Regions from separate parts of the Homo sapiens genome. Here all the other regions are reported to be linked to region 2. The links are microRNA targets in miRTarBase. Many come from high-throughput screens and were not tested one by one. Region 2 holds a microRNA gene; each other region holds the end of a gene's coding sequence. Distances are from middle to middle.

Region 1 (4,397 bases), 110 Mb from region 2:
ATCCCAGCACTTTGGGAGGCTGAGGCGGGCAGATCACGTGAGGTCAGGAGTTTGAGACCAGCCTGGCCAACATAGTGTAACCCCTTCTCTACTAAAAATACAAAAATTAGCTGAGCATAGTGGCACACGACTGTCATCCCAGCTACTCGGGAGGCTGAGGCGAGAGGCAGGAGAATTGCTTGAACCTAGGAGGCAGAGGTTGCAGTGAGCTGAGATCACGCCACCACACTCTAACCTGGGCGACAAGAGCAAGACTCTGTCTCAAAAAAAAAAAAAAAAAAAAAGCCTGAAAGCCTGGCGCTGTGGCTCACGCCTGTAATCCCAGCACTTTGGGAGGCCAAGGTGAGCAGATCACTTGAGATCAGGAGTTCGAGACTGGCCTGGCCAACACGGTGAAACCCCGTCTCCACTAAAAATACAAAAATTAGCCAGGCATGATAGCCTGTGCCTGTAATCTCAGCTGCTTGGGAGGCTGAGGCAGGAGAATAGCTTGAACTCGGGAGGCGGGGGTTGCAGTGAGCTGAGATCATGTCATTGCATTCCAGCCTGGGCAACAGAGTGAGACTCTGCCTCAAAAAGAAAAAAAGAATAGAAGGAAGATGGTGGGAACTGGTTGGCCTTGGGACTTCCAAGAATTCTCCAAAAGGATGGAGTAAAGGACAGGATGTTCCTAAGGAATCTGGAGGGGCTTTCTCTCCTTCCTCTGGCCCTTCCTGGCCCCTGACTACTTCTTTCTTCCTCTTCCAGTGTTCCATTGAGTGGTTCCATTTTGCCTGTGTGGGGCTGACAACCAAGCCTCGGGGGAAATGGTAAGTGGCAGGAGTTGGAGGGTCCCTAAGTTGAGTGGTCAAGGGCATTCTCCCTTTCACTCACTTTTCTCTCCCCTTCTCTGTTTCAGGTTTTGCCCACGCTGCTCCCAAGAACGGAAGAAGAAATAGATAAGGGCCTTGGATTCCAACACAGTTTCTTCCACATCCCCTGACTTGGGCTAGTGGGCAGAGGAATGCCTGTGCTGGGGCCAGGGGTTCAGGGAGGAGTGGATGGCACAGTGCTGTCATCCCTTCTCCTCCCCTCTCCCCACTCCCGGTGCTGAGGCTGCATCAGACCCTGGTAGGGAGGGGTGCCGCAGCCACTAACGGTATGTGCTCTCCTTCAGCCCTCTCCCTTCGGAGGGACGTGGTCTTGCCCACTGTCCTTTTGCCTCCATGCTGAGGTCGGTGCTGTATTTCAGAGGGAGGGTCCTTTTCATTCTCCTTGCTTTGTATTTAAGGACTGGGGCATAGCATGGGGGCAGTCCCCCAGACCTCTTCATTCCCCCTCCTGTGGTGAGGGCTAGGTGTGATCAACACTTTTCTTCTCCATTCCCTTCCTGCTTTTTTCATGGTGGGGGATCCACCAGGTCATCTAGGCTCTGGCCCTAGTTGAAGGGGCACCCCTTCCTCTGTGCCAAGAGGATTCATCCTGGGAGAGGGGGCAAGGTGGAATGCAGATAACTCACATGTAAAAGGAACTTGGGTAGGTAAATAAAAGCTATACATGTTGGCCTGCTGTGTTTATTGTAGAGACACTGTTTTAGTAAACATGCTGAGCATTCATTTTGCGTCCTCTGGGTTGGATGCAATGTGAGAGGATGGCATGCCAGAATTAGGACACGACATGAAACCAGAGTGGTGCCTCTGTCCGAGAACTTGTAAGTTCTCAACTTGGGAAAGACAGAGGTGCTGGAGGGTAGGCCTCAGACCAGGGGGTCTCCAAAACTTTGTAAATCATGCATCTTTTCTCCATAAAACATCTTTCACTTAATTTCCAATAAATGATGTATTTGTGCTATACATACGTACTGCTATACTATACATTAGCTTGACTTCTTTTTTTTTTTCCTTTGAGGCGAAGTCTCACTCTGTTGCCAGGCTGGAGTGCAGTGGCGTGATCTTGGCTCACTGCAGTCTCCGCCTCCGGGTTCAAGTGATTCTCCTGCCTCAGTCTTACAAGTAGCTGGGACTACAGGCACATGCTACCACGCCCAGCTAATTTTGTATTTTTAGTAGAGACAGGGTTTCACCGTGTTGGCCAGGATGGTCTCCATCTCTTGACCTCATGATCTGCCTGCCTTGGCCTCCCAAAGTGCTGGGATTACAGGCGTGAGCCACAGCACCCAAGCTGATTTCTTTTTTTCATTTTTTAAAATTTTTTTTAAAGTAGGCCAGGCCCGGTAGCTCACGCCTGTAATCCCAACACTTTGGGAGGCCAAGGGAGGTGGATCACCTGAGGTCAGGAGTTCAAGACTAGCCTGGCCAACATGGCGAAACCCGGTCTCGGCCAAAAATACAAAAATTAGCTGGGCGTGGTCATGGGTGCCTGTAATCCCAGCTACTCGAGAGGGTGAGGCAGGAGAATCGCTTGAACCTGGGAGGCAGAGGTTGCAGTGAGCTGAGATTGTACCACTGCACTCCAGCCTGGGCGATAGAGTGAGACTCCGTCTCAAAAAAATAAATAGGCTGGGTGCGGTGGCTCACACCTGTAATCCCAGCACTCTGGGAGGTTGAGGTGGGTGGATCACCTGAGGTCCGGAGTTCGAGGCCAGTCTGGCCAACATGTTAAAACCCCATCTCTACTAAAAATACAAAAATTAGCCAGATGTGGTGGCATGTGCCTATAATCCTAGCTACTTGGGAGGTTGAGGCAGGAGAATCACTTGAACCCAGGAGGCAGAGATTGCACTGTGCTGAGACCAGCCATAATTTTTGTATTTTTAGTAGAGACTGGGTTTCACCCTTTTTTTTTTTTTGAGATGGAGTCTCACTCTGTCATGCAGGCTGGAGTGCAGTGGCGTGATTTCGGCTCACTGCAACCTCCATCTCCCGAGTTCAAGCAATTCTCCTGCCTCAGCCTCCCGAGTAGCTGGGACTACAGGCACATGCCACCACGCCTGGCTAATTTTTTGTATTTTTAGTAGAGACAGGGTTTCACCGTGTTAGCTAGGATGGTCTTGATCTCCTGACCTCGTGATCTGCCTGCCTTGGTCTCCCAAAGTGCTAGGATTACAGGCATGAGCCATCGCACCGGCCAAGTTTCACCATTTTGGCCAGGCTGGTCTCAAACTCCTGGCCTCAAGAGATCCACCCTCCTTGGCCTCCCAAAGTGCTGGAATTCCAGGAATGAGCCACAGTGCCTGGTCTCTATTTTATTAATTTATTTTATTTTATTTTATTTTTGAGACAGGGTCTCACTTTGTCACCCAGGCTGGAGCACAGTGGTGAGATCTCAGCTCACTGCAGCCTTGACCTCTGAAGACTCAGGTGATCCTCCTACCTCAGCCTCCCCAAGTAGTAAGTGGGACAACAGGCGCACACCACCACACCTGACAATTTTTGTATTTTTTGTAGAGACAGGGTTTCGCCATGTTGCCCAGGCTGGTCTGGAACTCCTGGGCTCAAGGAATCCACCCGCCTTGACTTCCCAAATGCTGGGATTACAGGCGTGAGCCACCAAGTCTGGCCCAAGACAATTTCTTGTTTTATTTTTCTTTTTTACTTTTGCTTTTGGGTGGGGACAGGGTCTCACTTTGTCACCCAGGCTGGAGAGCAGTGGCCCGATTGCACCTCACTGCAGCCTTGGCCTCATGGGCTCAAGCGATCCTCCCATCTCAGCCCCCCAAGAAACTGGGACTACAGGCACGTGCCACCACGCTTGGCTAATTTTTTGTACTTTTTGTAGAGACGAGGTTTCGCCCTGTTGCCCAGGCTGGAATTTCTCATTTTAAACACAAAACAGATACAAAAGCAAAAGTTCTCCTCCCATACCTCAGTGGACTGTCTTACTCGATTCTCCCTTGGAAACCACTTTCGTAGACCACTGAGCCACCCTCTTGTTTTCCCCTTGGACCCATTTTGCTCATGGAGGCGCCCTGTCTAGTTCCTACCCAGATAGGCCTTGACTTGGTTTTGCACATTCTATCTCTGCCTGCGCTTAGCTCTAGACCTCACGACCTGTTTGTTGGGCGAGTTGCTTCCCTAAGCCCCGATTTCTCATCTGTAAAACGAATGATAGTGTATCTACCTTATGGGATTCCTATGGCAATTACGTAAGGTAGTGCATGTAAAGATGCTAAGTGGCTGGCTACGGTGGCTCACACCTGTAATCCCAGCACTTTGGGAGGCCGAGGTGGGCAGATCATTTGAAGTCAGGAGTTCAAGACCAGCCTGGCCAACATGGTGAAACCCAGTCTCTACTAAAAATACAAAAATTAGGCCGGGCATGGTGGCTCACGCCTGTAATCCCAGCACTTTGGGAGGCCGAGGTGGGCGGATCACAAGGTCAAGAGATCGAGACCATCTGGCCAGCATGGTGAAATACCATCTCTACTAAAAATACAAAAATTAGCTGGGCGTGGTGGC
Region 2 (4,397 bases):
CTGGGGGCGGGGCCGAGCAGCTTCAGCTGCGGCTGGGATAACGGAACTCTGTCTGCTGGGGCAGTGTGGGGAGGAGCCTTCTCCCATCCCAGGGGCTTCACGCAGCTTCCTTAACGAGGTTTCCCAGCTATCAGAAGTGGAAACAGAAACAGAAAATTGATGATCGTGACTCGGACGAAGAAGGGGCATCTGACCGGCGAGGCCCAGAGCGAAGAGGTGGGAAGCGAGACCGTGGCCAAGGTGAGAGCCAGGGTGGGGAGTGTGGGTGCACAGGTAGGCAGAGCAGTTGTGGTCAGATTAGGGTAACGCTGAGGCACAGGTGCAGGGGCTACTGCAGAGCCCCAGAGCTGGGTGTGTTGGGGTATGCTGCCAAAACCCTGGGTCCCTCCATGATCCCCCCCACCCAACCCCCACACCCACAGTTTCCCCCTTCCTACTGTCCCGGCCTCTGATGGTCACGAGCACCGCCTGACAGGCGCTGGGAAGTGCCATGCCCCTCAGGTGCCTTGTCCCCGACCCCCTTCCACTTCACAGATGAAGCTACAGGGATAACTTCTGGTAGATGCCCTGTTCACCTAATTAAGCCGATTGTGTAAAATCCTAGAGAACCCGGGAGGTGGAACCTTGTGCAAATGCAGGCCATTTTCACCTGCAAAAATGGCATTTGCATGTGGTTCGACCTGACAGTGAGCATGAATTGATTCCCTGTGGCATCCTTAGGAGTGACGTTCTTTTTAGCAATGCTGTGGGGAAGTTCATGTCACCAAAGACGCAGTCAGAAGCAGCTTTGGTTCTGGGAGGAGGCGATCACAGGGGATGTTGAGGAAGATACTTCCTTGAAATGTGGGTTGGCAAGTGGTACATTTGGTCATCTGAGGACTTGGACCTCTTTGATCTGGCCTGGGTCCCTCAGCCAGTAACAAGCTAAGGTGGATTTGAAGCCGGCTCTGTCTGCCAGAGCCTGTGCTTAAGGGCTGTTATCAGGGAGGGGCTCCCGCTTGCTGGGTGCAGGCAGGCTCTGTCCTGGAAGGCCACACATGACCTGGGAGGCAAGGTGACTGCGAATACCCATTTTACAGGCCAGGAAACAGGTGCCTTATGAGGGCTATGACTGAACCTGGGTCACCCAGCTGCCCAAGGCTCCCACCTGGAGTCTTCCCTGGGGAGAGGGGAGTTTGGGACCATGTCTTGGGTCTCTCTCAGATGGCCTTAGCCCCTGCTTGTGTCCCTCCACCTCCTGGGGCTGGTCACTGCCTCCCCTGGGTGTCTCTGTGAGCCTGCGTGCATTTGCCTGGGCCTGTTCTCTGTGGCTCCTCCCTCTCCAGCTCTCCCATCTGTGGGAGTGTCTCCTTGTCAGCATGGCTGGGTGGGGACCACCCACACCTCACTTCTCAGCCTGTTTTTACCTAGGTGAAACAGCAGCTTCTGCTGCGAGCATTGCCGTGCAGTGGGCGTGCAGGGGCTGGGGAGACGGGGGCGACCTGTGGGCTTTGGGAAAAAGCAGCTGTTCTTCCTTTGCTGTCCTCATTGGAGGTGATAGGTCCTGCGAGGCACCCTGGCTCCATTGGAGACAGCTGGGACCACCTTAATGGTCATCCCTCTAGGAGCCCTGGGGAGGCTGCTGTTATGAATGGGGAAGAGGAGGAGGAGGACACAGGGCTTAGTGGGAGCCAGGGAGGGTGGTGCTTGCCTCCCGGAGAACTAGAAGAATGGACTACCTGATGCCCACCTGTGGGGCTGGGGCAGGGTCGCTGACCTCTGCTGCTGCTGCTGCTTTGCTGTGTGATCTCAGATAAGTCCCTCTCCCTCTCTGGCCTTCTTTGATTCCTCTCCCACCTAAAGGAAGGTTCATCTACACTCTTTTTTCATCTAACAAGCCTAGAGCATGGTGTCCATGGAGACAGAGGCTGAGGTCTGTATCGGTTACTATGGGGGGCCTCAGAGCCTGGCGTGCCGTAGGTGTGCTGTGGAGACATACACTCCTTGGTTGGAGAATTTTTAATAGTAACAGTCATGCCCAAAAGGCTCCCACTATGGGACAGGCCTTGAAATTCTGACCACTTTACACCATGGAAATGCATTTACTCTTCACCCATGAGGGAGGTGCTGTGATTTATAATTCATAGATGGGGAAACTGAGGCACAGAGCCGTTAACTTCTTGCCCACGGTCCAAGAGGTCACAGCTGGGATTTGAACCCCAGCGGTTCTGGCCCCGTGTTATTGACCACTCCATGAGGCTGCCTAAAACTTTATTAGCCACCTACTGTGTACAGACACTGGGCCACAGCAATAAGCACAGAACAGGAGTAGGGGCAGGGGAGGAGTCTGCAAGCTTCTGGGAGGAGGGGATCTTGGGAGTGATCCCAACAGCTGAGCTCCCTGAATCCCTGTCCCAGCAGGTGCATCCCGGCCCCACGCCCCAGGCACCCCTGCAGGCCGAGTCCGCCCGGAACTCAAGACCAAGCAGCAGATCCTGAAGCAGCGGCGCCGGGCCCAGAAGCTGCACTTCCTGCAGCGTGGTGGCCTCAAGCAGCTCTCTGCCCGCAACCGCCGCCGCGTCCAGGAGCTGCAGCAGGGCGCCTTCGGCCGGGGTGCCCGCTCCAAGAAGGGCAAGATGCGGAAGAGGATGTGAGGACCAGGACCCAGCCCCGTGGCTCCTTGATTGGCCTTAGGGTGGGCATCAGCAGACGTTCCCGTGCACCACTGTGTGCCTGGCCCTGTGCTGGGCACTGGGGGCACTCCCTGCAGGAGCCATCATCTGTGAAAAGGAGCACTGTATGGCCACAGAAGGGCAGCAGCTGCGTCAGCCTAAGACAGAGACATTTGAACAGGGCCTTGAAGGGTGTGCAGGAGTTCGCCAGCAAAGCCAGGCAGGCCAAGACTTGAGTTGGCAACTCAGCTGCTGCTGCTTCCATGTGTTCTGGGTTCAGAGGTCATGGCTGCACCGGTCAGAGCCCTGAGTGCCTCAGGGTTTGGCAATGGAATTTTTAATGTAATAAATCTTTATTGAGCACTGCTGGTGGCCAGGAGTGCGGTCTACTTGGGGAACTGGAATGGAGAGACCCAGGTACTAAAATCCCAGCTAACGTGGCAGAGGAGTTGCGGGTCTCCTGAGGGTGAGTTCTGCTGCCTTGTCCATTTAGCGATGAGGAAAGTGAAGCTCAGAGCACAAACCAGGTGCCAGAGGCGGGAGTTGGTCCCCCTTCCTCCCACTGGACATGGTTGCAGCTGGGAGTGGGCTGGGGGAGGGGAACAGGATGCCCAGCCCAGGGGGCAAGGACACAGCTGCTCCCCTCTGGCTATGAAGAGGTTAACGCGGCCCCTCCACACCTGGAGGTCAGAACCTGGCCTGTCCTCTGTCTTCTTGCCACCCACCCCCTGTTTGAGGTTCTGAGAAGGTCAAGGGCAGCCCCAGCAGCTGGATTCTCAGGCTGGGCCCCTCACCTGGCAGAGTCCATAGTGGAGGGGGCCTTGGTGATCTCTCATCTAGCATGGACCCTGTTCTGAGACCTGACAAAGAGTTTTTTTTCATGCCCCAACCACCCTGGCAGGGAGGGCCTGGTCTGATCTCATTTTAGAGGCAGTTGCCCCACACATAGCCCCTTGACCTTCCCATCACCTCCTCATCAGGGCCTGCATTTATGGAGTGCTTGCTATGTGCCCCTCATGGCAGGCCCACAGCACTCTGAACAGGCACAGCCCTCCCATCTTCCCAATGAGGAAACGGATTCAGGAAGAGCCACTCAGTCCACACCCCATTGGAAATGTGGGCCCTCCTATCTCAGGGTCTCTCAGGGGTTCCCTCTCCCGCTGCTCACCTGTGTCAGGGCTAGGAGGCAGGGGCTGCAGGCTCAGCCTGACCCAGGCCGGCCAGCATGGCAGAGAGGTCCTGCATGAACAGCTTCACCTGGGGGGGCCCAGCACGAAGTCACATCCCAGCCCCAGAGTCACTGTCCAGCCCCCACCCCTCAACACGCGGGGGAGGCCGAAAGGTAGGGCGGGGACTGGAGATCCCCTCATTAAAAGAACAGTGATGATGGTGGTTCCCAGAGGTGGTGACTGAGATCCTAAACCGTTCTGGGTTTTGAAAGCCTCAGGCCAACCTTCCCAACTGCTGCGTGAGCAGACACCTTCACAGCTTCCTCGCTGCTGTCACCTGCACTATCCAATTAGTATTTTCATTTACATCAATCAGCTTTATTTTCTTGTAACTGGATCAGTCATATTCATTGGTTTGTGACCTACTCTTATCTCCGTGGGTGGCTCTCCTTTTGTTTTAATTAACTTCTTTATGAATATGAACTTAATAAATACCATGGATCCATTGTAAAAACTAGAACTTGAGGGTGAACTTACAACCATCTGTGGGCTCCCCCTCATATTCATCACCGTATCA
Region 3 (4,382 bases), not on the chromosome of region 2:
CCTTGTCAACCCCTCACATGGCCTCAGGCTGGCCCAGGAGCTCCTGTTGGAGACCAGTCAGCTTGACAGACAGAACATTCTAGAATGCTTTGGGAGACCAGTGTGGGAAGAAAGAAAGAAGATTTGCTCCCTTCCTTCAGGCTGTTCCCAGTCTGACGAAGAAACTAGGACATAAAGAAAGCTAGACCCCAGACGGAGAAATGAAGTAAAAATCTTGTTCCCAGTGTGAAGATAATGTGGAGATTTAGGGTAATGGTGGAGATGACTGCCTGGTCACCACAGGGAAAGGAGACAGCAGCTCATCTTGGTTATAGCCACACACGAGCATAGACATTAGAGAACTGAGTTCAACCACCCAGCAACAAATTATTCAAAGTTGGTTGAATTCACAGTATATGTGCCCCAAATTGATAGGCTCTGTAAGGAACAGGGATGAAGGAACAGTCTCTGGCCCAAGAAGCTTCAGAGGAGAAGAGATAAGCCAGACAATATACTGAGGAAATGGAAAAGCAGCCGCATTTGCAGGGGAAGACTTCTTGGAAGAGGTGGCCTTGAGCCTGCTGAGTGCCAGACCAGGAGGGTGGCATGGAGCCTTGGAGGAGGTTTTGCTGAGGTGCACTGAGGTGGGAACTAGCCCCATAGCTGCCACTTTCACCCAGTGCTCCCAAGCCACACAGCTTCCTTTTTCCTGTGGGGCCTCGGCTTGGCCTGTGTCCACCTGCCTGGCTGAGTCCTAGGACCTTACCAGCTGGGGAGGGGCATCAGGATTTCTTATCATCCGAGGAGACTGGTTTCCTATCACCCAGCTTCTCTTGAGCTGGGGGGCCGTCCAGCCTGGTAAGTCCCTGATGTGTGTGCCACTTGTCTACAGGAGCGGCCTGTGGAGGTGGGTGACTGGAGGAAGAACGTGGAGGCCATGTCTGGCATGGAAGGCCGGAAGAAGATGTTTGATGCCGCCAAGTCTCCGACCTCACAATAGAGGTACCTAGAGACCAGCTCCCTTCTCTGGGGTCCATCAGAGTCTAGAGGATAATGAGGGAGTCCACAATGGGCAGGCGGGTTGTACTTAGTGTGGTGCACGGATGCACGGACTAAGGCACCGATGAGACTGATTTGAGTCGGCTCTCCTGGGCTCAGTCCTGGCTCCAGCACCATGATACTTGGGCATGTCATTTCTGTTTGGCGGCCCTTTTTGTTCCCATTATCTATGAAATTGGGGGCTGTATCAAATCAGTGGTTCTCCAAGTGTGGTCCTGGGACCAGCAGCGTCTACATCACCTGGGATGCAAATGATCAGCCCCCACCCCAGATCCACTAAATTGGAAACTCTGGGGTGAGGCCAGCCTTCTAGGTGATTCTGATGCACATGAGAGTTTGAGAACCACTAGGTTAGAGGGTCCCTGGGATCCCTTCATCTCTGACTTTCTGAGAATCTATGCACTTTTAAATACCTCCTGGTGATGTCCTTTATTTGTGCTCCCTGCGAAGTACCCAGCACTCACAGTACCTGTTCCCAAGGAGCTACCACTCACAGAAGCTAAGACTTCCCACCATCTGAGGAAATAGCTGGAGAAACTGGGCAAAGCAAGGAAATCAGGCCACGTAAAACCCTCTACGGAAGTGCTGAGAGAATGTGCAATAGGGCAGGCATCCACCAGACAGCACTGGTCAGAGCAGGCTTTCTGGAGAGGAGGAGCTCTCTGAGGATGCGACGAGCGAGTGTTAGCTGATAAAGGGAAGGGCATGTTGAAGGGCTGATGGTGCAACAGAAGCATGGAGGTGGGAATTAAGCAGCCACAGAGTAGCATGGCAAGGCTAGGTAAGAGCTGAGGGCCGCAGTGTGGAGGAGCGGTGTGAGGGGTCCCAAAAGGGGAGCAACTGTGCCCGAGGGCCGAGAAGCTGAGGTTTTGTAGGAGCCCTTATGAATGAAGATCCAGTCCGGGGTGCGCTAGGGCTGAGAAGCCCTGGGGACTGCATGTGCTGTAGGTAAGTCAGGGATTCATGCGCTGCACACAGGTCCCCGGGAACTGATGGCTTTGCCTCTTTGTCCCTACAGGCCAGCTTGCTGTGCTGCGCTCTGAGCTCCTGCTTCATGCTTCTTCTCCAACCCAGCTCACTCACCTCTCTGCCTGTGTCTGGAGCATCCCTTCCCACCTCTCCCCCACTTCTTCCCTCCAGCCTGCATGCCCTCCTCTGGAACTGGGATTAAACAGATACCCAAGAGGCAGGAAAAACGCGAGTGTCTGAAGACCTCACCCTGGCAGGGTGGGCTTCTATCCACCCATGAGGCACCTGGGGCTTCTCAGCCACCCCGTGGTGTAACAAGTGGAGGAGGAGGAGGGGGTGAGAACACCTTTCCTCCAGCCCTGTGCCACACTCCTTCTATGTGTGTACAGTGTCCACAGGCATCACACCTTCTTCATTAAAAACCCAGTTTCCTGGTCATTTCTGCAGCTCTGACTGTGAGCCCTGAGAAGAAAGGGAAGACTTGGGGCTTGGGAAGAGAGGGCTGTGCTGGGCTCCAGTCACCCTGTCTGCAGTCCGGAGCTCGGGATCTGAAGGGAGGGCTAAGGAATTGGTGGCTGCTTGCCAGGGTCCCCTGGGGCCCCTTCTGCCCAGTCCCTGTGACGTCACACTGCACACACTCACCACCCAGGATGCTCAGCTCACCAGAGCCCTGACCTCCGAGAAATGACCCCGTCCTGCCCCTGACTCTGGCCATCAGAAGAGGCCTCTCCATTAAGAGCCGCTTCTCCTGCCGGCTTTCATACTCTCCTTCCTCTGCAAACCTGGATTAACTCTCCCTGATGTGTGCTGGGTTGAGAGGTCAGGGCACTTTCAATCCCTCACCTAGTCCTGCTGCACAGGGCAGGAGGCCTCACAGAAGAGATACTTGCAGTTCCAGGCCTGGCCACCAGGTGACGCCTTCCTTCTCTCCTGGGCTCTCCTGTCCCTCCGGCCTCTGCTCTCCCCACGTTCACCCACCCTCCTCCCAATTGTTTCCCCTTCACACTCCTGCACTGGTCCTATCCCCCAGGACTGATTCTTTCCCGGAGATGGGGTGGCCACTTATCTGTCCTCTGGATCAGGTCCTTTCTCCATCCCACTACCTCCTGGGTCCAAAGCCTGGTGAGAGCATAGGGCCTTCTGGGGTGGAAGGGGGGTCTGGGGCAGCCTCTCTTCCCCCAACATACTCACTAGAGTGGCTCCTGTGAAGCAGAGACCAAAGTTCTGACTTTTCTTTTTCCTTTTTTTTTTTTTTTTGAGATGGAGTCTCGCTGTGTCACCCAGGCTGGAGTGCAGTGACGCGATCTCGACTCACTGCAACCTCCGCCTCCCAGGTTCAAGCGATTCTCCTGCTTCAACCTCCTGAGTAGCTGGGATTACAGGTGCGTGCCACCACACCCCGCTAATTTTTGTATTTTTAGTAGAGACAGGGTTTCACCATGTTGGTCAGGCTGGTCTCGAACTCCTGACCTCGTAATCTGCCCACCTCGGCCTCCCAAAGTTCTGGGATTACAGGTGTGAGCGACCACATCCGGTCAAGTTCTGACTTTTCAGGGCAGTGGGATGGTGACTTCTGAGCTAAGCCTGCAAGGGAAGTGGCTGTTCCCAGACCTGGGGTCCCTTGGCTTTTCGACCACCCTAGCACTGGCCCTAGGAGGGGCTGAGTTATCAGAGCAGCAACCCTTCTACCCACCCTACTGAGTCCCCATTCTACCTTCGAATCCCATGTATTATCTTCCATAAGTGCCAGAAATTGGTACAAAGTGCAGTGCCAGCTGCTCCCCAGGGCATGGTCTGGCTCTCTGGGCTGCTGGGCTGCCAGCCCCTTTCAGAAAGCATGGCAGTGGGAACCAGCAACTTGGGCTACCTTAGGGGAAGCAGCACTCTGCCCAGGGTTCTTGCTATAAATAGGTCAGTGGGCAGAGAGGCAGATGTGTGCAAAAAGCACAACCCCAATCACACACAGAAACCCGTAGGCACGGACACACCCAGTCTCAATGCACGAAGTTGGAGAACCTGACAGGGCTGGTCCAGGCCACAGAGGATGGGGTTAGGCTTCATGCCTTCATGCCCAGGCAGCCACAGAAACCCACTCTTCCCCGCCTCACAGGGCTCCTCCGGTTGGCCTGGATCCAAAGCGATCTCCTTGTTTCACCTCTTTCCAGCTCTTCCCTAGAGCCTGGCCCCAAGTTCCAGAGTCAAATCCCAGTTTTGCAGTCAACTATTAACCTGGGGCCCTGGCAGATTGGGGTATCCACCCAGTCATGTAAAGGCAGGAGACCTGCTCTGGGCCTGACTCAAAGCAAACACGTGGGTGCAGAAGACCCATGGGAGGAGGAGGTGGGGCCCACTCAACACACCTAAGCCAGTGGCCC
Region 4 (4,397 bases), not on the chromosome of region 2:
CGCCTCGTCCTTAAGCACCTACACAATTCCGGATCACCTAGGTTACTGGCTCTCCGGCTTGAACGTGCAGCAGAGTTGCTCAGAGACCTGCTTTCAGATGATTCAGCTCTCCCACAACATTTGGGCCAGCAGGTCTGGGATGGGGCTCAGGGACTGGCACTTCTAACAAGGTGGTGCCATTGCTGCCATTCCCCGGACCCTGCTGGAGACCCACTGGCCTAGGTTATTCGGCAGAGTAATCAACAGTCCCTGACATCAGTGGCTTTAATAAAACAAAAATGTGCTTCTCCTGCTCCTGCTACCAGTTCTCACAAGCTGGCAGGGGGCTCACTCAGGGAACCTGCTGGTGACGTAGCCCCTCCACGAAACATGGCTGGTGCTGTGCCCGAGGGAACCACACCTTCAGACCGGAAGAGGCGAATGCCACGTGGGCTCAAGGTCATCGGCTGCAACGAGCCCCGTGCCTTCCCCGACCTCTAGCCACAAGGAGCTAGGGAGTCTAATCCTGCTACACAGCTGGAAGGGCAGTGCTGGAGAGCTTCAAGAACATTCTCGCAGGGTGCTGACTGCCAGGAGTGAAGAGTGAGGACAGTACACGGTGGTGTGGACACCCAGCAGTGGCTGAAACTCACTTCTCGGGCTAGTGCCCGGTTACGTTCTAACATCCTCCCAAGGGCACAAAGCTGTCCATGCCAGCCTTGGCCACTCCTGAGGGACAAGCTCCACCTAAGGACAGCCGGGGCCATCCCTTCCTTTCTCTGGGTGGCCAGTGTGGTTATCTCCAGAGCTCCTAGCGTCCTGGGACTGTGTGCAGTCCTGTCTGGGAGGGGCCTGGCCACACTTAAGAAGAGAGTCACTCACATCTGTTTACGGTGGAAACACCCAACTCGATTTATTGAAAAACTATTACAGTTAATTATTCCTTTGTTACACAAGTTTAGAATATTTTAAGATATCCTTTCCTGGGCATTACAGTTAAAACTTATGACATGTCTAGCGGATTTTTTGAAACCGTACAATGTGTCATTTGACATTGTATTTCAAAAGGCCTGATGTCCTCGAAACTTTATCTTGGGTTTTTTGCTTACCATTTTTTTCTTTTTGCCAGCGTTTGTCCAATTATATATATTGAGAGGAAAAAATAAAATTACACCAAAAGAATTTCTGCAAATATAAGAAGTAATTTTATTGCAATATACTGTGGCTAGAGTGGTCTGGGGAGAACGGGACACATTTTGAAGTTCAGTACAAATTATAACAACTTTGAAGGGACCACAGAGGAAGAAAATGACAGGAGAAAAGGACAAATTGGATGGGATGAGAAATGAAAACAGAATCACATGACCTAGACGCAGTCCACGGGGGTCGCGGGACAGTCCTCGGCTATGGCTTTTCTTTTGAAGAGATGAAGGTGACAGTCATTGGCACATGCTGGCATCCTGGGCTCCAGAGACTCTCCAAGCCAGACTTTTCTTTGGCAAGAGCGAGACTTACTTTCCAGGGAAATTTGGAAAATCCACGCTGGCGGTGTTTTGTTCCTCCTGGGTGGCTTGTTTGTGGCTTCCTAAGCTGGAACTGCATTCTGGTGGTGGTGGGGGTCGGGGACAGCACCAGAGCCCCGCAGGCTCACCCCAAGGGCCCAGCCTGCATTTCCCATGGTAGAAGGAAAAGGCGCTGCACCCGGGCAACTTTTCACAGTGAAGAGATCGCCTTTCCTGGCTGCCCCTCGGGTCCTCCTGCCCACAGACGGCAGCCCCCCGACCTCGATGGCCAGGAAAGGGTTCCCCAAAGGGGACCTCACCCGCCCCGAGCTCTGGAGCCGCTGACGCTCGCATCCAGGACATTTGAGATGGGAATCCAAATAGGCTACTTGGAAAAGACGTGCTGCAGGCAGCCCTGGAGAGACTCATGGAGTTCATTGTACATTACTCCATCTACCGAGGCAGCGCATGGCATGACTGAACGGCTTGGAACAAACACAGAAATTAGCACCACAAACATTCAGGAACCAAATATAATCTGCTATGGTCACACCACAGACAATGCAGGAAGAGGCTTTTTATTGCTTGTGTGTGTTTTCAAATCAAGTAGGCACAACCCAGTCCTCATAACAGCCCTCGGGAGTGGACGCACCGGGGCGGGAGAGCGCAGGAGGGAGTGTGCTTGGCTATCCTGCCCAGTGGAAAGGAAAGTGACGTGCATTGATCTTAGAGTCCTTGGCAACAGACTGTGGAGGCAATAACAGGATAAAGAAAGCAGGGAGAACGAGGCATGGCCAGGGTCCCCAGTGCGCCTTCAAGGAGACCTTAAAACAGATAGATAGCACCACAAGAGAGCCACAAGAGAGAAGTGTAAAAAATAAGCACCAATTTTCATTGAGTTATCACCTACAAAAAATGTGGTTTCCCTGCCCTGGACATTCTCCCATCAGGCTCTGCGGGAAGAAAAGCGGAAAAAGGAAGCAAATAAAATTAATCCAAACCTGTGTTTTAGTCTTAAGTGCATGTAGAAAAAAGAAAATTATCAAATTTTTTCCCTATTAAAAAAAAAAAAAGTCTAGAGCGAATCAAAAACTGTCTGAAAAGGGGCACTGGTACCTGCTTTTCAATGGCAGCATAAATTCTTGCTGCCCCGGGGCAAACTTCCAATTTATTGCACGTTCTTGGCCAGGGCGGGGGTGGGGAGACTTCCTATTTCTAATCAGAACGGTACTGCAACCCAGAATCCATGCCTCGCCCATTCTGTCCGTGGGACTGAGACTGGGTTTCCGTGCATGATTGAAAGCCAGGCACACTTAACATTTATAACAATACAATACAAATATTTACTTAAAACTCACAAAAACATAAGCACCTTTAATCCATCGGGAAGGCACCTGCAGAATGACATTTGGCCTCTAAATGGATCGTGTTGGAGGTTGTTAAAAACGGAGGCTTTGGTGATGGTGGGATGACCTTTACGAGGCTTACCTTGGAACATTTTTTGAAGGTCAGGGGAAATACACATCTTCAAGTTGAATTTAGAAAAAAATATAGTGTCCAAATCTGGCAGTCCCTCCCCCAACCCCTGAGACCTATTCACGAACAGGATGGGTCGGGCGAGCTGGGGGGCTGGAGGCATGGCCCCGCTCCCGGGGCGCGTGGGTGTGGACAGAGCGTGGGGCGGGCCCAGGCGCTGGGGTGCAGCTAGGTCATGTGATTCAGCTCCAGGTGGGGGCGCGGCTCCTTCCCTCTGTTCTCTCCGGGCTGGGGTCCCACACCCCGTGGTGCCGAGGCGTAGATGAAGTCAGGTGGGAGGGGAGGGAGAAGCCTTCACTGTCCAGGGTCAGGACGTGCACGGGACACTCACGAACGAATGGCATGCTGAGGTCACGAGGTTGCTCTCGGGAGCCCGGGCTCGGCGGCTCCTAGCCCATGAAGCAAGCCGGCCCCACTTCAAATCCAAATTTCTGTGACGCTTCACCGAAGTCATTGAACATGATGTCCACGATGGGCACCTGCTCCACTTTGGGGGTGTCGATCTCCAGAACCGTCTTCTGGTAGCCTTTCTTGGTCTGGGGAAGAGGGAGACAGATGGCCGGTGGTTAAGAACAGTTGGGGGTCTTGGGGTTTACCAATCACCCCCCACAATCTGTCTGGCTCCAAAACCCAGGCTGGTGTCCTGTCTCCTACCCAGGGCTGCGCTTGCCCGGGCAAGTGTTGGAGGAAATATGGCTGATCAGAGCATGCATTTAACCCCGGTGGATGTCCCAAGAGTCCCCCTGCACAGGTCGGAGGTGGGGTGGTGTGGGCATCAGCGAGGCGACAGGACCCTCCCAAGGCTTCAGGGGTGGCTGAGGCACACACAGGATTGAAGCTGATCAGCCTTCCCACCGTGCCCAGTCCAGACTCCTTGTGATGCCCCAGGTATTCACTTCCAGGCAGCCTCCCCAGGACCCAGGGCCAGCTACAGAACAAGCAGGGCACACTGGAAAATCAAACGGGGGCTCCAGGTTCGAAAAGGAAGGAGTCCGAGGCGGCACCGGCAGAGCCTTGAGCCAAGTAAGACCCCCCTACGACCACCTGCCACACACTGCCTTAGGCACTCGGTGGGCTGGGTCTTCACCTCCACAAGTATGGGAAGGGGTGGGGACCTTCCACACCATCTGGTCTAGAGGAGTCTTAGGTAAACTGAGGCACAGAGGGCAGGGGTAGTGCAATGAACCTGGCCTGCAGGATGAGTCAGCACCCATCCCTTGCTCAAAACAGCACAACCCTGGGCGCTGGGATGTGGGATGGAAGCCTAGGAGAGGCCGCCTCCCTCCCAGAACACAGGCAGCGCAGGTGTGAGATTCTTTGGTCCCTCCCCAAAGCCACCCAAATATAACTCCCAGTGTTCTTTATAACTGAGGCTGAGCT
Region 5 (4,360 bases), not on the chromosome of region 2:
GGAAGAGAAAAGGAGTCTCAGAGAAGGCTAGATCCTCTACTTCTCTAGTTCCCAATTTGGTAAAATCCAGTGTCCACTGTATTACTTAGAAATCACTGGGCCAGCCGGGTGCGGTGGCTCATGCCTGTAATCCCAGCACTTTGGGAGGCCGAGGCGGGCGGATCACGAGGTCAGGAGATCAAGACCATCCTGGCTAACATGGTGAAACCCCGTCTCTACTAAAAATACAAAAAAAAAAAAAAATTAGCCGGGCGTGTTGGCGGGTGCCTGTAGTCCCAGCTGCTCGGGAGGCTGAGGCAGGAGAATCGCGTGAACCCAGGAGGCGGAGCTTGCAGTGAGCCGAGATCACGCCACTGCGCTCCAGCCTCGGTGACAGAGTGAGACTCTGTCTCAAAAAACAAAAAAAAAGAAATCACTGGGCCAGCTCTGCTTCTCCCACAGCCGCATTTTTTTTTTTTTTTTAGACGGAGTTTTACTCTTGTTGCCCAGGCTGGAGTGCAATGGCACAATCTCAGCTCACTGCAAACTCCACCTCCTGGGATCAAGCAATTCTCCTGCCTCAGCCTCCCAAGTAGCTGGGGTTATAGGCATGTGCCACCACACCCAGCTAATTTCGTATTTTTAGTAGAGACAGGGTTTCACCATGTTGGTCAGGCTGGTCTTGAACTCCTGACCTCAGATGATCCACCCCCGACCCCGGCCTCCCAAAGTGCTGGGATTACAGGCATCAGCCACCACACCCAGCCCCACAGCCCCATCTAAGCCTCCACCCTGCCATCCTGTTCCTCAGAAAGCACATGCTCTGTGGAGGGAGCCAGCAGGGAAGTCTTGTTCCCCACCTCCACCTCCATCCCAATCCCAAGTCCTGGGGATGGGGCAGGTGGTGCAGGAAGACCAGGTAGGCCAGGCCAATCCCCTATGGAGCAGCTGAGCCTCCAACTCCTGAGCCAGGCCACCCTAGTGTCATTTGTCATCCATGCTCAAATGTTTTCATCCATATTTTCTTTTATTTCTTTTCTTTTCTTTTTTTTTCTTTCATTTTTTTTTCCCGAGATGGGGTCTTGCTCTGTCGCCCAGGCTGGAGTGCAGTGGCGTGATCTTGGCTCACTGCAACCTCCGCCTCCTAGGTTCAAGCAATTCTCCTGCCTCAGCCTCCCAAGTAGCTAGGATTACAGGTGCCCACTACGACATCTGGCTAATTTTTGTATTTTTAGTAAAGAAGGGGTTTCATCATGTTGGCGAGGCTGGTCTCGAACTCCTGACCTCATGATCCGCCCGCCTCGACTCCCCAAAGTGCTGGGATTACAGGCATGAGCCACTGAGCCTGGCTGTGTTTTTCTTTCTCATTGCAGAGACAAAGCGGGTTACTTCTGGTTCATTCACGCATCCAAGTCCTGACATGTCTCAAGGGCATTACTGTGCTTGTCAGGGAGGGAGGGCCCAGTCCATCCTCTGGTTATTCCCATCCATCCCCTAGGCCTTCCCTTGGCTCACCCTGCCCCCTGCCAGGCCCCTTTGCTTGCTGGCCTGACGGGGCTGGGTCTCTGTGGCTGGAGGAGATGGCCTCTGCCCCACCCCCCTCGACTGTCCTGGGCACAAAGGAGAACAGCTTTGCCTGGAAAGGGCCCAAGACACCCTGAGAAACTTGTAGCGATGGGACCTGCCTCCTGCAGCCCTCCACCTGCGTCATCCTTCCTGTGCCCTCCTTGTCTACACCAGGGCCATGCGGTCACCCCTGAGGGCTCTAATGTTACTAGGCAAAGGCCTGAGTCTGAGCAGGACAGGGTGGGGCAAGCTCCAACCCAAAGTCTACTCTATTATCAGGAGAAGCTCCATGCTATCCAGAGGACCCCGACACACACCCCAAGCCAATTTCCCTTCATCCCCAGGAAAGTGTGCCACCAACTGAGGAGGAAATGTATCTGCTTCTCTTCCTAGCACTCCCGTGAACTCAACCAGGAAGATACTGCTGTTTGGCTTTAAAAATAGTACATTCTAGCTGGACTTTTATGGTCTTGTGAAGAACACTGTGCTCATGCCCTCCCACACCTGGCCTCTGCCCCTGCCTGGCCCTGTCCAGCTGCCCACATCAGCTCTGCACAAGCTCTTCAGGGTCCCTCTGCAGAGACGTGGTTCAAGGCAGATTTACGAGTTCAGCCTTGGCCGAGGCCTTCTCCCCATGGCTCCCATCCACATTCCAGCTGTTCTCCCACATCCCAGGCAGCTCGGGGCTGGGATGTTCTGTGTCTCTTTTTCTACCTCTACCACAACTGGCTCAGTCGCACCCCCAGCCCTATTTCAGCTCTGCCCTGGCCAGCCCTGTGGAGGTACAGGGTCCTGTCATGCCAGAACCCAGACCCCAACCATTCCCAGCCTGCCCAGAGCTCACTTACATTCATGATAACAACAATGGTGTGTGTCTAAGGATAACCTTGTTGGGACTCTAGTTGGTCATGCCCGTCCCCTCCCACTCTGAAGGGCTGAAATTTAACCGAAAGGTAATTTGTTCCATCTGGACTTCAGGTGCCAGGTTTGAGGCTACATCCGATCTGGAAAGTTATTTTCAGTGTGTGTAGATTCTATGATTAGTCCTCAAGTTATTTCTTTAGGGCCAGAGATGAGTTTCACCGAAGCTATATCACATTTCTGGCACCCCATGGTAGGACTTAGAGAAAGCCCCCAAGGACGATCTCCATGAGGCGGAGCCGGCCCTAGGGAGCTAATAGACTATAGAAATAACTCCAGAGCCAGGGAAGCCTCGAACACAAATTTTACAAGGAGCCAATTGAGTGGTTGAGCAGTTGAAGGCAGGCCTATCTTGTTTTTGCTTGAGGGCAGGTTTCTAACATAATGGAAAGAGAAGACTGTAATGATCACCCCCTATATACCTGATCTTCTCTTAAGGTCCTTCAAGGATGTAATTGATTCTGTCAATATCCTTCATATTTAAGGCCATAAGTTGCTGCTTGGTTCAATTAAGGTAGAATTGCTTCTGGTTAAGATCTCAAACTAGGCATCTGGGACTATCTAAAAGTTTCTCTGGAAACTGGAATGTAAGCAATGCAAGATGTATGGCTTAACCTGTAGATATAACTCATGTCAAGAAAACAGTGGGGTTGGGCATGGTGGCTCATGCCTGTAATCCCAGCACTTTAGGAGGCTGAGGTGGGAGGATCACTTGAGGCCAGGGGTTCGAGGCCAGCCTGGGCAACATATCAAGACCCCCATCTCTACATAAAAAGAAGAAGAAACGAAAAGAAAAGAAAAGAAAAGAAAAGAGTGGAAGAGTGCAGGAGCCGAGAGGGAGAGAAAATGTAGTGGTGAGGGGCAGCTTCTGGAAAGGCCCATACTACAGAGGGAGGAATCCTGAATTCCTCACTATCTCTCTAACATCAGGTAAGCATCTCATGATGCAGTTAGAAAGCACATTTCCTTCTTCAGTTTCCCCTCTGGCTGTGTGACCCAGCCCAGATCTGTTTACACTTGGAGCTACCAGGAGCCTATCCGGCCACCTGGCTTTCCCATCAGCACCTGGGGCTGGTGCCATCCCAGGCCCCTCCCTCTGCACCTGCCTTTTTGCTATCTGCAGAGGGTTTGTAGAAACCTTAGGGGAAGAAAGCTAGGGTGGTTCCCTACCTCAACTTTGAGCCCAATTATACCTCTTTCTCTCCCACTTCCCAGTAGCTGTCACAGAAGAGCCATGGGGAAGTCCCCTCCTGGGGACCAAGGAGGAGGCTCTCCAACCTGTGCCCCTCTAGGTACTGTCCATCACAGAAGTGCTACTGCTTCTCTTGGTCTGCATGCTGGAACTTGGGAGCTGAGTCTGAGTCAAGTCTGATGGCTGAGAATCTGGGGGCTGGTAGAAAATCCAGGCCCATAAGCATGAGTCACAGTCTAGGAGAAAAGGGCGAGTGTGATAATTATTTGTCACCAAGAGCTGGTGAGAGTGGTGTGGTGGAAAGGAGAGCATCTGCCTCTCCAGGGACTTGGGACCCCACCTCTGCATCTCTTGTTCTTTGGCTGGGGGTGCTGGCTGTGGTGGAGTCAAGATCGGAGTACCCCAGGCCTCCAGCATAGAGACGAGATCGCATCGGCCACTTCTGCAAGACACAGATTGGGAAGTGAGAAATGCTGCTATTGCAGCCCTTCGTGGTCCAGGATCCTTGACACCCAAAACCCAGCCTTCTCCAGCATCCCTCCCTGACACCTTCCCCAGCCATCACTGCTCTGATCAGGGTCATCATCATGTACAGCCCCACACATTCTCCTGATCACCCAGAGCCTGGATGAGAGACACAGGAGGAGCCATCTGAGGAGGGAGAGGGCCCCAAGAAGAGCAGCGCTCTGTTGGGAGGGAGGT

What was found. Region 2 holds the annotated microRNA hsa-miR-7106-5p (UGGGAGGAGGGGAUCUUGGG, at 2,338-2,357, shown strand). A microRNA usually pairs through its seed, bases 2 to 8, with sites in the 3' UTR of a target mRNA and lowers its output. Matches are read on the target gene's strand: a 7mer-m8 pairs with bases 2 to 8, a 7mer-A1 pairs with bases 2 to 7 and ends in A, and an 8mer does both.
Region 1: miRTarBase lists ING4 as a target of hsa-miR-7106-5p. Seed matches in the 3' UTR shown: 7mer-m8 at 1,065-1,071.
Region 3: miRTarBase lists TNNI1 as a target of hsa-miR-7106-5p. Seed matches in the 3' UTR shown: 8mer at 2,988-2,995, 7mer-A1 at 3,334-3,340 and 7mer-A1 at 3,499-3,505.
Region 4: miRTarBase lists COL5A1 as a target of hsa-miR-7106-5p. Seed matches in the 3' UTR shown: 7mer-A1 at 3,291-3,297.
Region 5: the mRNA of TCF23 is a reported target of hsa-miR-7106-5p. Seed matches in the 3' UTR shown: 7mer-m8 at 3,357-3,363, 8mer at 3,167-3,174 and 7mer-A1 at 142-148.

Annotation. Positions count from the first base shown.
Region 1 is chr12:6,647,736-6,652,132 of GRCh38, reverse strand. ING4 (inhibitor of growth family member 4) reads left to right here. Exons shown (of 8, transcript NM_016162.4): 7 at 748-809; 8 at 899-1,832. The coding sequence ends at 938. Among named protein-coding and RNA genes, the nearest start is that of ACRBP, 2.5 kb to the right of the region's middle.
Region 2 is chr12:113,157,113-113,161,509 of GRCh38, reverse strand. It overlaps MIR7106 (microRNA 7106), which reads left to right and starts at 2,333; the gene lies at 2,333-2,397. CFAP73 (cilia and flagella associated protein 73) reads right to left here. Exons shown (of 8, transcript NM_001144872.3): 7 at 3,820-3,908; 8 at 2,234-2,809. The coding sequence ends at 3,831. DDX54 (DEAD-box helicase 54) reads left to right here. Exons shown (of 20, transcript NM_024072.4): 19 at 128-240; 20 at 2,401-4,337. The coding sequence ends at 2,633.
Region 3 is chr1:201,406,925-201,411,306 of GRCh38, reverse strand. TNNI1 (troponin I1, slow skeletal type) reads left to right here. Exons shown (of 9, transcript NM_003281.4): 8 at 872-981; 9 at 2,057-4,382. The coding sequence ends at 979. Among named protein-coding and RNA genes, the nearest start is that of LAD1, 9.8 kb to the right of the region's middle. RefSeq lists an enhancer at 2,956-3,035.
Region 4 is chr9:134,841,313-134,845,709 of GRCh38, reverse strand. COL5A1 (collagen type V alpha 1 chain) reads right to left here. Exons shown (of 66, transcript NM_000093.5): 66 at 867-3,553. The coding sequence ends at 3,407. The region is part of intron 1 of LOC101448202 (a long non-coding RNA gene); the gene reads left to right. Among named protein-coding and RNA genes, the nearest start is that of MIR3689C, 5.9 kb to the left of the region's middle. RefSeq lists enhancers at 1-425, 2,737-3,571.
Region 5 is chr2:27,152,428-27,156,787 of GRCh38, reverse strand. TCF23 (transcription factor 23) reads right to left here. Exons shown (of 3, transcript NM_175769.3): 3 at 1-4,100. The coding sequence ends at 3,921. Among named protein-coding and RNA genes, the nearest start is that of TCF23, 5.6 kb to the right of the region's middle. RefSeq lists an enhancer at 3,815-3,874.